Regions from separate parts of the Homo sapiens genome. Here regions 2 and 3 are each reported to be linked to region 1. Evidence: microRNA targets listed by miRTarBase, many of them from high-throughput screens and not tested one by one. Region 1 holds a microRNA gene; each other region holds the end of a gene's coding sequence.
Evidence for each region. Region 1 holds the annotated microRNA hsa-miR-6081 (AGGAGCAGUGCCGGCCAAGGCGCC, at 2,759-2,782, shown strand). A microRNA usually pairs through its seed, bases 2 to 8, with sites in the 3' UTR of a target mRNA and lowers its output. Matches are read on the target gene's strand: a 7mer-m8 pairs with bases 2 to 8, a 7mer-A1 pairs with bases 2 to 7 and ends in A, and an 8mer does both.

Region 2: the mRNA of HIF3A is a reported target of hsa-miR-6081. Seed matches in the 3' UTR shown: 7mer-m8 at 528-534, 8mer at 1,109-1,116, 7mer-m8 at 1,227-1,233, 7mer-A1 at 1,480-1,486 and 7mer-m8 at 3,585-3,591.
Region 3: the mRNA of USF2 is a reported target of hsa-miR-6081. Seed matches in the 3' UTR shown: 7mer-m8 at 1,353-1,359.

Annotation. Positions count from the first base shown.
Region 1 is chr9:95,062,648-95,066,758 of GRCh38, forward strand. It overlaps MIR6081 (microRNA 6081), which reads left to right and starts at 2,703; the gene lies at 2,703-2,799. All of the region lies in intron 14 of AOPEP (aminopeptidase O (putative)), which reads left to right. RefSeq lists an enhancer at 131-840.
Region 2 is chr19:46,339,259-46,343,369 of GRCh38, forward strand. It overlaps HIF3A (hypoxia inducible factor 3 subunit alpha), which reads left to right. Exons shown (of 15, transcript NM_152795.4): 15 at 267-4,111. The coding sequence ends at 364. Among named protein-coding and RNA genes, the nearest start is that of PPP5C, 5.8 kb to the right of the region's middle.
Region 3 is chr19:35,278,347-35,282,457 of GRCh38, forward strand. It overlaps USF2 (upstream transcription factor 2, c-fos interacting), which reads left to right. Exons shown (of 10, transcript NM_003367.4): 8 at 352-446; 9 at 600-728; 10 at 821-1,475. The coding sequence ends at 910. Among named protein-coding and RNA genes, the nearest start is that of HAMP, 2.1 kb to the right of the region's middle. RefSeq lists enhancers at 1,676-2,175, 1,848-2,347, 1,854-1,998, 2,438-2,517, 2,608-2,657 and 1 more and a cis regulatory region at 1,919-1,932.

The sequences.
Region 1 (4,111 bases):
GTGTGGTGCTTCTGTGTATGGGCTGTGTTCACAGAGCATCTGATCTGTTGGTCTGATTTTCTGAGTGTAGCACTGAGTCTGCTGCGGCTGCTTGCCAAGGGCTTGAATGTCGAGGGGTTGTGGGGCCAGGGTTCTGAATACTATCTCAGGTTATGCACACCCTGCCTGCCCTCCATGTGCCTGCATCACGTGATGTGAAGACCCAGGTGTATGCTCTTCATGGAGGCAATGCCCCCGTGTTCAGAATGTGAAAGGAAAAGTGCTCAAGGACAGACAGAGTTGAGAGCATGGGTGGAGTAGGCAAACCATCCCAGGCTACCTCCTGCCTTGCCACCCCTCTGCAGGGCGGGCACAGGCTGCGCTCCTTGATGCTCCTTGGCCTGGAGAGTGAAGCTGACCTCAAAGTCAGCCATCTTGTATGTAGCAGGCCTCAGGACTATGGGCGGGTGCTGGGCCACTGCAGCCAGCACGGAAAATGAGCCGAAGGGAAATCCGTTCCACAGAAGCACCTTGTCTTTCTGCAGTTTTTGAGTATATTTCTCAAATAGCCATAAAAGTTTAAAAAATATATTTGACAGCTAACTCTGGGAACAAAACATGTTATCTAAGATCCCTTTTTAAGTAACACATTTCCTGCCTGCCTTAGCAGGTCTCTTAAGCTGTAAAAATAGCTACCCATGGCAGTGAGATGAGGATCCCTGGACCTTGCCTTTCTGACCTCTTTCCCCCAGGAAGTCCATGACTGACCTTCAGGCAGCAGCATCTCTGCAGGCTCCACTGAGCGCTTTCAGATCTCCGCAGACTCCACTGAGCGCTTTTAGATCTCCGCAGACTCCACTGAGCGCTTTCAGATCTCTGCAGACTCCACTGAGCGCTTTCAGACTGGGGCCATGCCTCAGGGGATGGGCTCCCCCTGTGTTGTTTTGCTGGTGGCCACGAATCCGAAAGGCCCATGCTGCAGCGTGCCCTGCTTTGAGTTTGGTTGATATGCTTAATAAGAACATTAGTTTTCTGGGAGAATTTGGTAGCACCCGTTCTTCCCTTCACTGTGTGGGGGAAATAGTGTTGATTGAAAGGAAGAGGACTCCGAGATTGGATTGGAGCAAGAAAGTGTGGGTATCGTGTGTTGTGACTGTGTCTTCTCCGGGGTGCTGCTTCACTGGAGGTCTCCCTTCAGGGTCTGGCCCTCATGCCTGGCCCCAGGTGCTCGTGTGCACGTGAGCGGCTCTTCCTGCTGACTGACTACAGCTAATTGACAAAAGGCAGTTTCAAAAAAAAAAAAAATCTCAACTTAGTAAGGTGTCAGCACAGAGGGGAGTAGCTAGAAAAAGCTTGCTAACAACATTTAGAGGCCACCCTAAGACAGCTATACTCTCCCAAAGTGCCAAAGAATGTAACCTTGGGAGGCTCCACTCTTTCATGTAGAATTGCAAACTAAACTAGTAGGAGCAAGTGAATGTGAGGAAACAGATTGTAAGGGCATACCTGTTTCAGCACTCATCCGGCTGCCTTCCAGGATAGAAAGGAAACTCCAGGTTGATTGGAAATGGAAAAAACGACCAGCGTCACAGGCCTGTCCCGTAGCACGGGCAGTAGCTGAAGAGGCCCTGCAGACCCTGTGTAATGGGTCTAGGTCTCCTCTACCTCTTTTTTGTTTGTATGTTTGAGACGGAGTCTCGCTGTGTCTCCCAGGCTGGAGTGCAGTGGCACGATCTTGGCTCACTGCAACCTCCAACTCCCAGGTTCAAGCAGTTCTGCCTCAGCCTCCCGAGTAGCTGGATTACAGGTGCCCACCACCACGCCCAGCCAATTTTTTGTATTTTAATAGAGACGGGGTTTCACCATCTTGGCCAGGCTGTTCTCGAACTCCTGACCTCATGATCCACCTGCCTTGGCTTCCCAAAGTGCTGGGATTACAGGCGTGAGCCACCGCGCCTGGCCTCGTCTACCTCTTTTGATGCATCGTACACAAGCCATTGGTCAGGGGGCGGGTCCACAAGCTGGTATTTATCTTAATATGCTGTTACTAATACATTGTTTACTTGGGAAGAAAGCACCATAGCATTTATTTGCAGTCCAAAGGTGGAAGTTGTGAGTCCAGCAACACAATCATGTGACAGCTTTAATGCTCATTTATGAATTTCATTTGGGCCAAAAGCATAGTTCTGTGACTCAAGCACTTAATGATTAATAGAACTCTAGAGGAACTTACCAAAGGGGCAAAGAATGAAGGTTTGATGGTTGTTACATCTCCAGATTCTAAAATTGATCCATAGTTGTGGTTCTGTTCGTTCCTTTCAGTGCTAGAACTCTTTCCATTAGAGATGACTTTCGTCTTCTGCTTTGGAGGGCTTGGAGATGTGAAATGTTCAGGAGGGTCTTTTCCCTGCTGTTGGAGCTTCTTTTTCTTCCCTGGTTGCTTTTTCATAGTATTCTGGCTACAAATAAGTAAGACATTTCTATTTTGTTTTGTTACAGAGTGGCTTAGAGGAAAGGTTAGATATAATCTCTTTGGGCTCTGTTGCTGTTTCAGGATGCTCGATGCTTTAGATTTATTAATATGTAGTGTGCTGAACTTAGAAGTCCTTCCTCTTGTCTGCCTTGATCCAGAGTCTAAGCGTAATAAAGGCAGAAACTCTGGCTATGCTGACGTCAGGTCCTGTCATCGTGGTGTGTGAGGGCAGCACCCAGCTCTGCCTCTCCCACCACGGTGCTGGCACCAGGGCCTCTGCCCCGTAGGACACCGAGGCTTATGAATAGGAGCAGTGCCGGCCAAGGCGCCGGCACCATCTTGGTGATGTCCAGGGGGCCCACCCAGGCCCCCTTTTCCTCTCCTCCCCTTCTCCTGCTGGCTGCCCTTGGTGCAGGCGAATCCAGGGCCTCATTACTAAGCCAGCTGGCTCACCACGTCATCATCCAGCATTGTCAGGAGACACCATTGTGGAACAGAGCCCTACAAGGCAGGTTTTCAGATTGAACATGAAAAAGAACACCATTGTGGAGTGTCAGAGTAGTGTGTGCAATTAGTGAAATGCTTTTATAGGGTAAAATACAAGGAACCAGGTCCCCCCGGGATCCCAAAAGGGCAAGTTGACACTTGCCACCTCCACCTGGCAACCCACAGAAGCTCAGCATTAGGCCGTTTCTCACAGTATGATTGCAGGTACAGGGGTCTGGCTTACTGGCCCATTGATGCCATCAACCTTAGGTTACAGATCAAGAGGCCAGATACCGATGAGTCTGAACTTTAGAACATGGCCTGTGAATAGTGTGACTTCAGGTTTTTAGAAAGCTGAGACCATGCTTGTGAGGGTCATGGCTGTCCCTTTGACAGAGCATTATTCCTTTTCTAGAGTTTAAAAGGTGGGTATAGATTGAAAAAAGGGATTGGGGTAATTGTCTTTAGTTACTTTAGACATATCTTTTTACACCATCTGCTTTTTATGATAGGAGAAAGAATAGAGTTCTCTGGTTTTATTTGTGCATTTTTTCTTTGTCTTATTTGGTTTATGAAACATTTAATCGATGTTTCAGAACATTCTTTCAAAGTCAGGACGGTCTGTCTCTCAGTACATCCTTCTTAGGGTTTTCTTTCTGTTATTCAATTCAGTGCCTCTGGAACTTTCCTGTGGAAAGCCTGCAACAGCATCTCCCCTGTTATACTGTGATAAAGGGATTTTTTTTTTAAAAAGCTGATCTAAAATCACAAAGAACTTTCTTTTTTAGATAAATAATTTCCTGTGTTGTTCCTGAAGATTGTGTTTTGTTTACTGTGAATTTATAGCAAATGAAAGTAAAGAAGAAGCAAGCCATGGACAGCATAATCTGGCTAATTTTTCTTAAATGGTCAGCTTAGCATTTATCTGTTTAAAGAGAGAGGGCATTTAATAGGTGGCTTTTAGCTACAGGTTCAGCCAGACTTTATTAGAAAAGCCACTGGTTGCAGAGTGTCCCTGCCGTCTGCTGTTTGCACAGGGTTCAGCAGTGGGCCCACTGTTACCGACCTCTGAAGATGTGAGGGCCTCTGTGTTTGCTCCATAGGGCGCTCTCCAGTCTGTATAGATTTTCTCAGAAAGATGGAGATGGAGATTTACACATTCTCTGGGGTCTA
Region 2 (4,111 bases), not on the chromosome of region 1:
GACCCCAGCCAATAAAAAAAAAGTACAAAAACAAGACTTGCGTCAAAAATAAAGGCTCTTGTGCCCCTTTGTTCCAGTGTGCTCTCATGGCAACTAGCCAAAGAGGCACCCCTCTGCGCAAAAGTAAAATTACTAAAAATCCTTTGTTCGAGTGTTCAATTTCCTTAAGATTTTAAACATTATTCCTGACATTGGGGTTATGGTTGTCCTGTGATTTATCTTTCGTCTTTTACCTTTCATTTATCATTTATCTTTCATCTTTGCAGGCCTGGGCCCCTCACTGCTCTCTCCGTACTCAGACGAGGACACTACCCAGCCCGGGGGCCCCTTCCAGCCAAGGGCAGGCTCAGCCCAGGCTGACTGAGCCGGCTCCTCTCCCCATCTGCCTTCTCCTCCCCCAGAAAGGACCTCAACCACACTCCACGCCGGCAGCCAACGCACAGGATGGGGGCGCCAGGAGAGGGGCCCCTCTCTCCTCTATGTACCCCCTGCCCACCTCGGGCCTACCTCAGCCCTCACCCCTCTGCCTGCTCCCAATCTGGGGGCTCTCTGGGGTGGTCTCAGCTCAGTGACCTCTGGGAGGTGGTCCCTGGCCCCCTCCTCCTTCTCTCAGGATTTCTCTTGGGGTTCTCAATACTTGGTTACCTCATTATCCCTTTCTCTGCCTCTCTTGGCTTTATTTTGGGGAATCAGGGGTGAGGAGGGTTGGGGGGGTCATATCTGTGTTTCCAGGTTCTGGGGAGAACAATGATCCACGGGTCAACGTGATCACATTTCCTTCTATCCTTCTTGTATTATTATTTTTATTTTTGTCAATTTCATGATATGGTTTTTAATCATGATGAATTGCCTGGGGTCTGTAAGAATGTGGGACTCTGATCTTCCCCCTCTTCAGGTGTCAGTGCGGAGAGGCTCTGGGCCAGACCTCACCCCCAGTGACTTCCGATTGAGGCCAAAGACCCCAAGCTGCCCGCCAGCTCTGACTGCCCCTTGCGCTCTGGGCTTCCTGCCGCCCCCAGCTTTGCCTGGACACTGACTTCATTCATGGTCCTCCTACTTCAGGGGCAGCCTCCCAGTTCCTCTGCTTCCAAACTATGCAACCTCCAACCTGCTCCAGTTCCAGACTGTATAACCTCTGACCTGCACTGGTTCTAGACCACACAACCTCCAATGTGGTCTGCTTTAGATCACCTTCTTCTTCTTCCTTCTTCCTCTTCCTCTTCCTCCTGCTCCTCTTCCTCTTCTTCTTCTTTTTTTTTTTTGACAGAGTCTTGCTCTGTCACCCAGGCTGGAGTGCAGTGGCGCGATTTCAGCTTACTGCAGCCTCCGCGCCCTGGGTTCAAGTGATTCTCCTGCCTCAACTTCCCAAATAGCCGGGACTACGGGCATGTGCCACATTGCCCGGCTAATTTTTGTATTTTTAGTAGAGATGGGGTTTCACCACGTTGTCCAGTCTGGTCTCGAACTCCTGACCTCAAGTGCTCCACCTGCCTCAGCCTTCCAAAGTGCTGGGATTACAGGCGTGAGCCACTGCACCCGGCTAGAACTCACTTTCTCCAAATCCCTCTGCTTCGAATTTCACCGTCTTCAGCTCTTTCTAGTTCTGGGCCTCACCAGCCTCTCATTCTGCCTGTTTTCAAACCTTACGATCCCCAAAAATTGTCTGGTTCTGGGCCTCTAACTCCCTCTGGCTCTATAGTCTATGACTACCAGATTCTTTTGGTTCTAGAATTCACTAACTTCCTCTGGTTCTAGACCTCTTCCTATAAATTAATCCCTCTTGTTTTAGATCTCACACCCTCCAACGCCCTCCGGTTCCAGATCTTATATTCAGTGATTTCCTCTGGTTCTGGACCCCACAACTCCAAGCTTCCTATTGGTTCCAGTTCTCCTGATCGGTAATACATTTGGTTCCAAATCCAGACCTCTTAATCTCTCTCTTTTTTTTTTTTTTTTTTTGAGACAGAGTCCCACTCTGTCACCCAGGCTGGAGTACAGTGGCTCAATCTCGGCTCACTGCAGCCTCCACCTCCTGGGTTCAAGCAATTCTTGGGCCTCAGCCTCCCAAATAGCTGGGATTACAGGCATGTGCCACCACGCCCAGCTAAGTTTTATATTTTTAGTAGAGACAGTGTTTCACCATGTTGGCCAGGCTGGTCTTGAACTCCCGACCTCAACTGATCCACCCGCCTCAGCCTCCCAAAGTGCTGAAATTACAGGAGTGAGCCTGGCCAGACTTCTTAATTTCTAAATCACTTTTGTTTTAGACCTTATGAGGCTCAGCTTATTCTTCTGCAGTTCTCTATAACCAAGACTCATTTTCTCTCATCAAAAACAAGTACAGAGAGTTTGATGTGTTTATCTCTTTTTTCTTCCTCTTCTTTTTTTTTTTTTTCTTTTTTGAGATGGAGTCTCTCTCTGTTGCCCAGGCTGGAGTATAATGGTGCCATCTAGGCTCACTGCAACCTCCGCCTCCTGATTCAAGTGATTCTCCTGCCTCAGCCTCCTAAATTGGTGGGATTACAGGAGCCCACCACCACATCCGGCTACCTTTGTGTATTTTTTAGTAGAGACGGGGTTTTGCCAAGTTGGAGGGGCTGGTCTTGAACTCTTGACCTCAGATGATCCACCCGCCTCAGCCTCCCAAAGTGCTGGGATTACAGGCATAAGCCACCGTGCCCGACCCTGTCCTTATCTTATAATAACCAGTTCTTCTAGAACCAGACGATGCTCTAGTTCTCCTAGATTCTGAACCTCATGACCTGTACCACTCACTAGTTCCAGACTACACAACTTCTAGAAGGTGCCACCTCCAGGGTCCTGATTCAAGATCTGGTGATCTGCTGTTTCTCTGGTTCTAGAACTGACTTACAAGTGCCTTCTGATTCTAGACCTCATTCCGTAAGTTCCCTTGGCTCTAGACTTCATCATTTCCAGCTCCTCCTCACTCAAGATCTGACTCCAAATTACCCTGGGTCTAGAATTCAGCCTTCAAATATCTTCTGATTTTAGACTTTGCCTTATACATTTCTCTGGTTTTAGATCTTACCACCCTCAACTCCTTCTGATTCTAGATCTTATGGTTCCCAAATCTCTCTGGTTCTAGAACTCAGATTTTAGGCTTTTGTTTTTCCTTTTTTTTGTTAAAAAAAAAAAAATAGAGACGGGGTTTCACCATGTTGCCCAGGCTGGTCGCGAACTACTGAGCTCAAGCAATTCTCCCTCCTTGGCCTCACCAAAGTGCTGGGACTACAGGCATGAGCCACTGAGCCCAGCCAGGCTTTTTCTAATTCTATGCTTTATTCTATAAATTCCTCTGCTTCTAAGCCTCACAGCTTCCAACTGCCTTTGATTTCAGATCCAAATTCCTCTGATTCTATAATTCAGCCTCCAAATGCTTCTGATTCTGGAATCTAGACTTTTCCCTAAAGATTCCTCTGGTTCTGAATCTTATAACCTCAACTCCCTAATTCCAGACCCCAGCCTCCTAAATCTATTCTGGGCTTCCCACCCCACTGAACTTACCCAATTCCTTCTTTCAGTCTTAAGTTTTCCCATTCTAAACCCCTACCCTCTAGGCTGTGCTGCTCCTGGACTTCATGCCTCTCCATTCTCATTGCCTACAATCTCTGTGCCCCAGAACCCCCTCCACTTCCCACCCCAGCCCTCCAGACATGCACTTACCTTGACTTTACCCCACATGTTTGGGGCACCTGGGGCTCCCTCACCCCTTGGGTGGTTTGCAATCTGAAGACTTCTCCAGCCACACAGGCACATGCACAGGCACGGTGCTGTCTGCATATTGCCAGGTGGGGAGAGAAGCCAGGACCCCTCAGCTGTCTGCCACCATCTATGTGCCTCCCTTACCCCCCAGCTTTCTTTCTACAGATGGTGCTACTCTTGGTCTCCCACAGGAAAAGGCCTCCCCCCTTCTTAGCCCCATTTACCCCGTTTGTGGAAGGCACTGCTCGCTCTGTTTTGTCAGAGAGTGGCCTATCCAGATTGGTGCTATGGGGGGGTCTGACCCCTCCCTCCTCCCTCTGGAGGTGATGTGGGCCCTCAATGGAGGGAATTGTGCTGGGCTAGGGAAAGGGGAGGGACTAGACTGGCC
Region 3 (4,111 bases), not on the chromosome of region 1:
GAAGCCAGTGATGCCAATTACCATGAGAAATTTCCTTATTTTTAACTGTCGATTAAAATTTGTACAAGTATGGTGGGGCAGGCCTGCAAAATGATCTCCAAGTGCCTGGCCTTTGATGCCCGTCCTAAAAGCATGTGTGGCACTGGAGGGCCCACGTTTCTTTGTTCCTCTTGAGAAGCTGGGGTGGGGGCCGGCTGGGCTCAGGGTGCGGCCCCTCACTTCCCAGGGCTGTGGTCTCGGTGGGGCCTGCACTGTTCCTGGGTGTCCTTGGGCTGAGCCTCTGCCCTGTGAGGACGGCCGCTCAGGCATGATCCGTCAGCGAAGCCGTGGCTGTGACTCTGTTTTCCGCAGTGGAGCGGAGGCGGAGGGACAAGATCAACAACTGGATCGTCCAGCTTTCGAAAATCATTCCAGACTGTAACGCAGACAACAGCAAGACGGGAGCGGTGAGCACCCCGGACCCTCAGTGTCTGCGGTGGTCCCGGCCCCCGACCCTTGCATGCAGAAAGTCCAACAGCCATGGGGCTCGGGAGTCATCCCTGGGGTGGAGGCCGGTGGGCGGTGCCTGCCCTAAGGCTCCTGGTCCCCTCGCCCCCCAGAGTAAAGGAGGGATCCTGTCCAAGGCCTGCGATTACATCCGGGAGTTGCGCCAGACCAACCAGCGCATGCAGGAGACCTTCAAAGAGGCCGAGCGGCTGCAGATGGACAACGAGCTCCTGAGGCAGCAGGTGGGTGCGGGGCCTGGAGCGGGTCAGGGCCCAGGAGCCCCAGATGCAAGGCGCTGGCCCTCAGCTCCCTTGACCTCCGTCGTGTCCGCCAGATCGAGGAGCTGAAGAATGAGAACGCCCTGCTTCGAGCCCAGCTGCAGCAGCACAACCTGGAGATGGTGGGCGAGGGCACCCGGCAGTGACGCCCGCCACCACCACGCAGCCGCCGCCGCCCACGCCGGCCTCTGCTGCCCCCTTCCCCAGCCCTTAGCACAGAGAGGGACACATGCCCCTCCCCCAGCTGCGTTTTTTTATAGTAGATTTTTAACAAAAAACGGGGAGAAATAATGCATTTCTGTGGATACAGTGCCCACCGCCCTCCTCCACTTGGAAACGGTATCCTCCCTGCCCATCCGTCTGTCTGTCGCCCTTCTCCCGGCCCTCACTAAGCCCCGGCACTTCTAGTGGTCTCACCTGGAGGCAAGAGGGAGGGGACAGAGGCCCTGCCACGTCCCGCTGCCTCCTGCTCTCTGGAGGTACTGAGACAGGGTGCTGATGGGAAGGAGGGGAGCCTTTGGGGGGCCACCCGGGGCCTGGACCTATGCAGGGAGGCCACGTCCCACCCCACCTCTTGTTTCTGGGTCCCTGCTCCCCTTTGGGGGTGTGTGTGTGTGTTTTAATTTTCTTTATGGAAAAATTGACAAAAAAAAAATAGAGAGAGAGGTATTTAACTGCAATAAACTGGCCCCATGTGGCCCCCGCCTTGTCTGCTTGTGTGTTTGTCCATCTCAGGAGTGGGGAGGGGGCCTGGGGTCTGCAGAGCTCCACGAGGCATGGTTCTGCTGTTGTGCACATGGCTGTGCATGGTCCCTGCCAGCTGCACCACCCATTACCCAGTGGTTGGTTGGATGGATGGAGGAATTAAGGAATGAATGTCCCCTTTGAGGCCCTAGACGTGCATGAGGGTGTGGGGAGCTGGGGTCAAGGACATGTCCCATGTTGGAGGAGAGGCAGGGGTCTCCGTGTCAACAGTTCCTGAAAACACAACCAGCCCCTGGCCCTGCCCTGCTGGGCCAAAGCCCTCCCCTCTGCACCAGCCAATAGTGGGGCCTGGCCTTGAGCCCCTCACCCCCAGGGAGGGCAGATGGCCAGGGCGCCAAGCTTGGCCCGTCAGCCTGTCGCCTTGCACCAAGGCTCTGGCGCCTGTGCTGTGACCCCTGCCCCTGCTGATGATGAAACCTGTCCTCAGCTGAGATGCAGCGATGCCTGGTAGGGCTGGGGGCTGCTCCTGTGTCTCCCCAGGTGAGCACACCCCTATTCACTGGGCCCTGCTTCAGCCTGCAGCACCCTTCAACTCCCAGGAGCTGGGCTTGCCACTCTGCTCACCTTGTGGAGCTCCATCTGCCTTTCCTCCCCAATTCCCCCACTCCCTGCACTCGTCTCTTCCCACAAGAGCCCTGTCTCCTTTTCCTAGCTATTCCCATCTGAGGCCATCTTTATTCATTTAGTTTTTAGAGACAGGGTTTCACTCTCACCCAGGCTGGGGTGCAGTGGCACACAATCACGGCTCACTGCAGCCTTGACCAACTACAGGTGCGTAGCACCACAGCCAAGTTTTTGTATAGATGGGGTCTCGCTTTGTTACCCAGGCTGTGACAAGAGGAGCCTCCCACGTGGTGTGGATGAGGAGGCAGATGGCAGGGCCTGTGCATTTCTGTGCTTGAGTGGGCCTTGAAAGTGGTTCAGCAACCAGGAAGAAGTGTTCATTCCTCGACAACAACATCCCCGGGCTCTGGTGACTTGGCTGACACTGGATGGCCCTGGAATGAAAAAGGCAAAGAGGCAAAATGTGCAAGGGCCCATCTGGAACCAAGGTTTGTTGATCCCCTGGGCCGTGTGCACCCTGAGCTGGGCCTGGTAGTGGAAAGGAATGAAGGCACTGCAGTCAGGCAGCCTGGGTTCATCCCCCAGCTAGTGGTGTCCTAAGGAACCGGCTCCCCAAAAACATCCCTGGCTTGTAGTGCTTGCCAATTTCTGGGTGTCAAGACTCCCACTGCTGCTGATTTCAGGATACCAGCATGATGCCACTGAATGCAGAGTTTCGAGATGTGCATGGTCTGCTATGTTGAGCCAGGTCTAGCATACCGCTGTGCCCTGCTGTGTTTTAGGGGAGATGGGGAAACCTGGTGGGTAAGAGCAAAAGCCCTGGAGTCAGGCTGTCCAGGCTAGAATCTCAGCTCTGCCTCTGGCTGAGCAAGCTTGGGCCATGCCCTGATCTCTGCCTTCAGTGCCTTTTCTGTAAAGTGAAGGAAATGAGTGTCCGACGGGGAGGAGGTTCCTAAAAGGGAGCAGGGTCTGGGGAGCCCAGGCCTCTGGGGTTGGGTGACTGAGAAGGCAGCCCCTGAATACAGAGCAGAGCTGAAGGTGGGGCAGTAAGTGCTGCTGGGAGAACAGGCAGCACAGGCTGAGTTGGTGCAGAAGTGAGTCAACATATGTGCCATCGTATAAAATGTACTCATCGGACTGTAGATGTTAGCTATTACTATTACTGCTATTTTATGTTTTATAGACAGGGTCTCACTCTGTCACCCAGGCTGGAGTGCAGTCACACAATCATAGCTCACTGCAACCTCAGCCTCCTGGGCTTAAGCGATCTGCCTCAGCCTCCCAAGTAGCTGGGACTACAGATGTGTGCCACCACGCCTGGCTAAATTTGTTTAAAATTTTTTTTGTAGAGATGGGGTCTCCCTATGTTGCCCAGGCTAGTCTTGAACTTCTGGGCTCAAGCGACCCTCCTGCCTTGGCCTCCCAAATTGCTGGGATTACAGGCATAAGCCACTGTGCTGGGCCATATTACTGCTGTCATTTATGGCCAAAAGTTTGCTCAAACATTTTCCAGTTACCAGAGCCACATCTCAAGGGTCTGACACTGGGAAAACACCACGTGCGGATCGGGCACACGCTGATGCTTGCCCTGCTCAGGGCTATCTAGTGTTCCCTGCCAGAACCTATGCACGTGTGGTGAGAGCTTAAAGCAATGGATGCTTCCCCCAACATGCCAGACACTCCTGAGGAGCCTGGCGGCTGCTGGCCATGCCCCGTGTGCATGTAGGCGATGGGGAAGTGAGTGGAGGAGAGCGGAACCTTGATTCTGCTCATCAAACTGCTTAACCGCTGAAGCAAAAGGGGGAACTTTTTTCCCGATCAGCAGAATGACATCGTGATGGGGAAAGGGCTCCCCAGATGGCTGGTGAGCAGTGTGTGTCTGTGACCCCGTCTGCCCCACCCCCTGAACACACCTCTGCCGGCTGAGGGTGACACAACCCTGTTCCCTGTCGCTCTGTTCCCGCTTATCTCTCCCGCCTTTTCGGCGCCACCACCTTCTTGGAAATGAGACAGAGCAA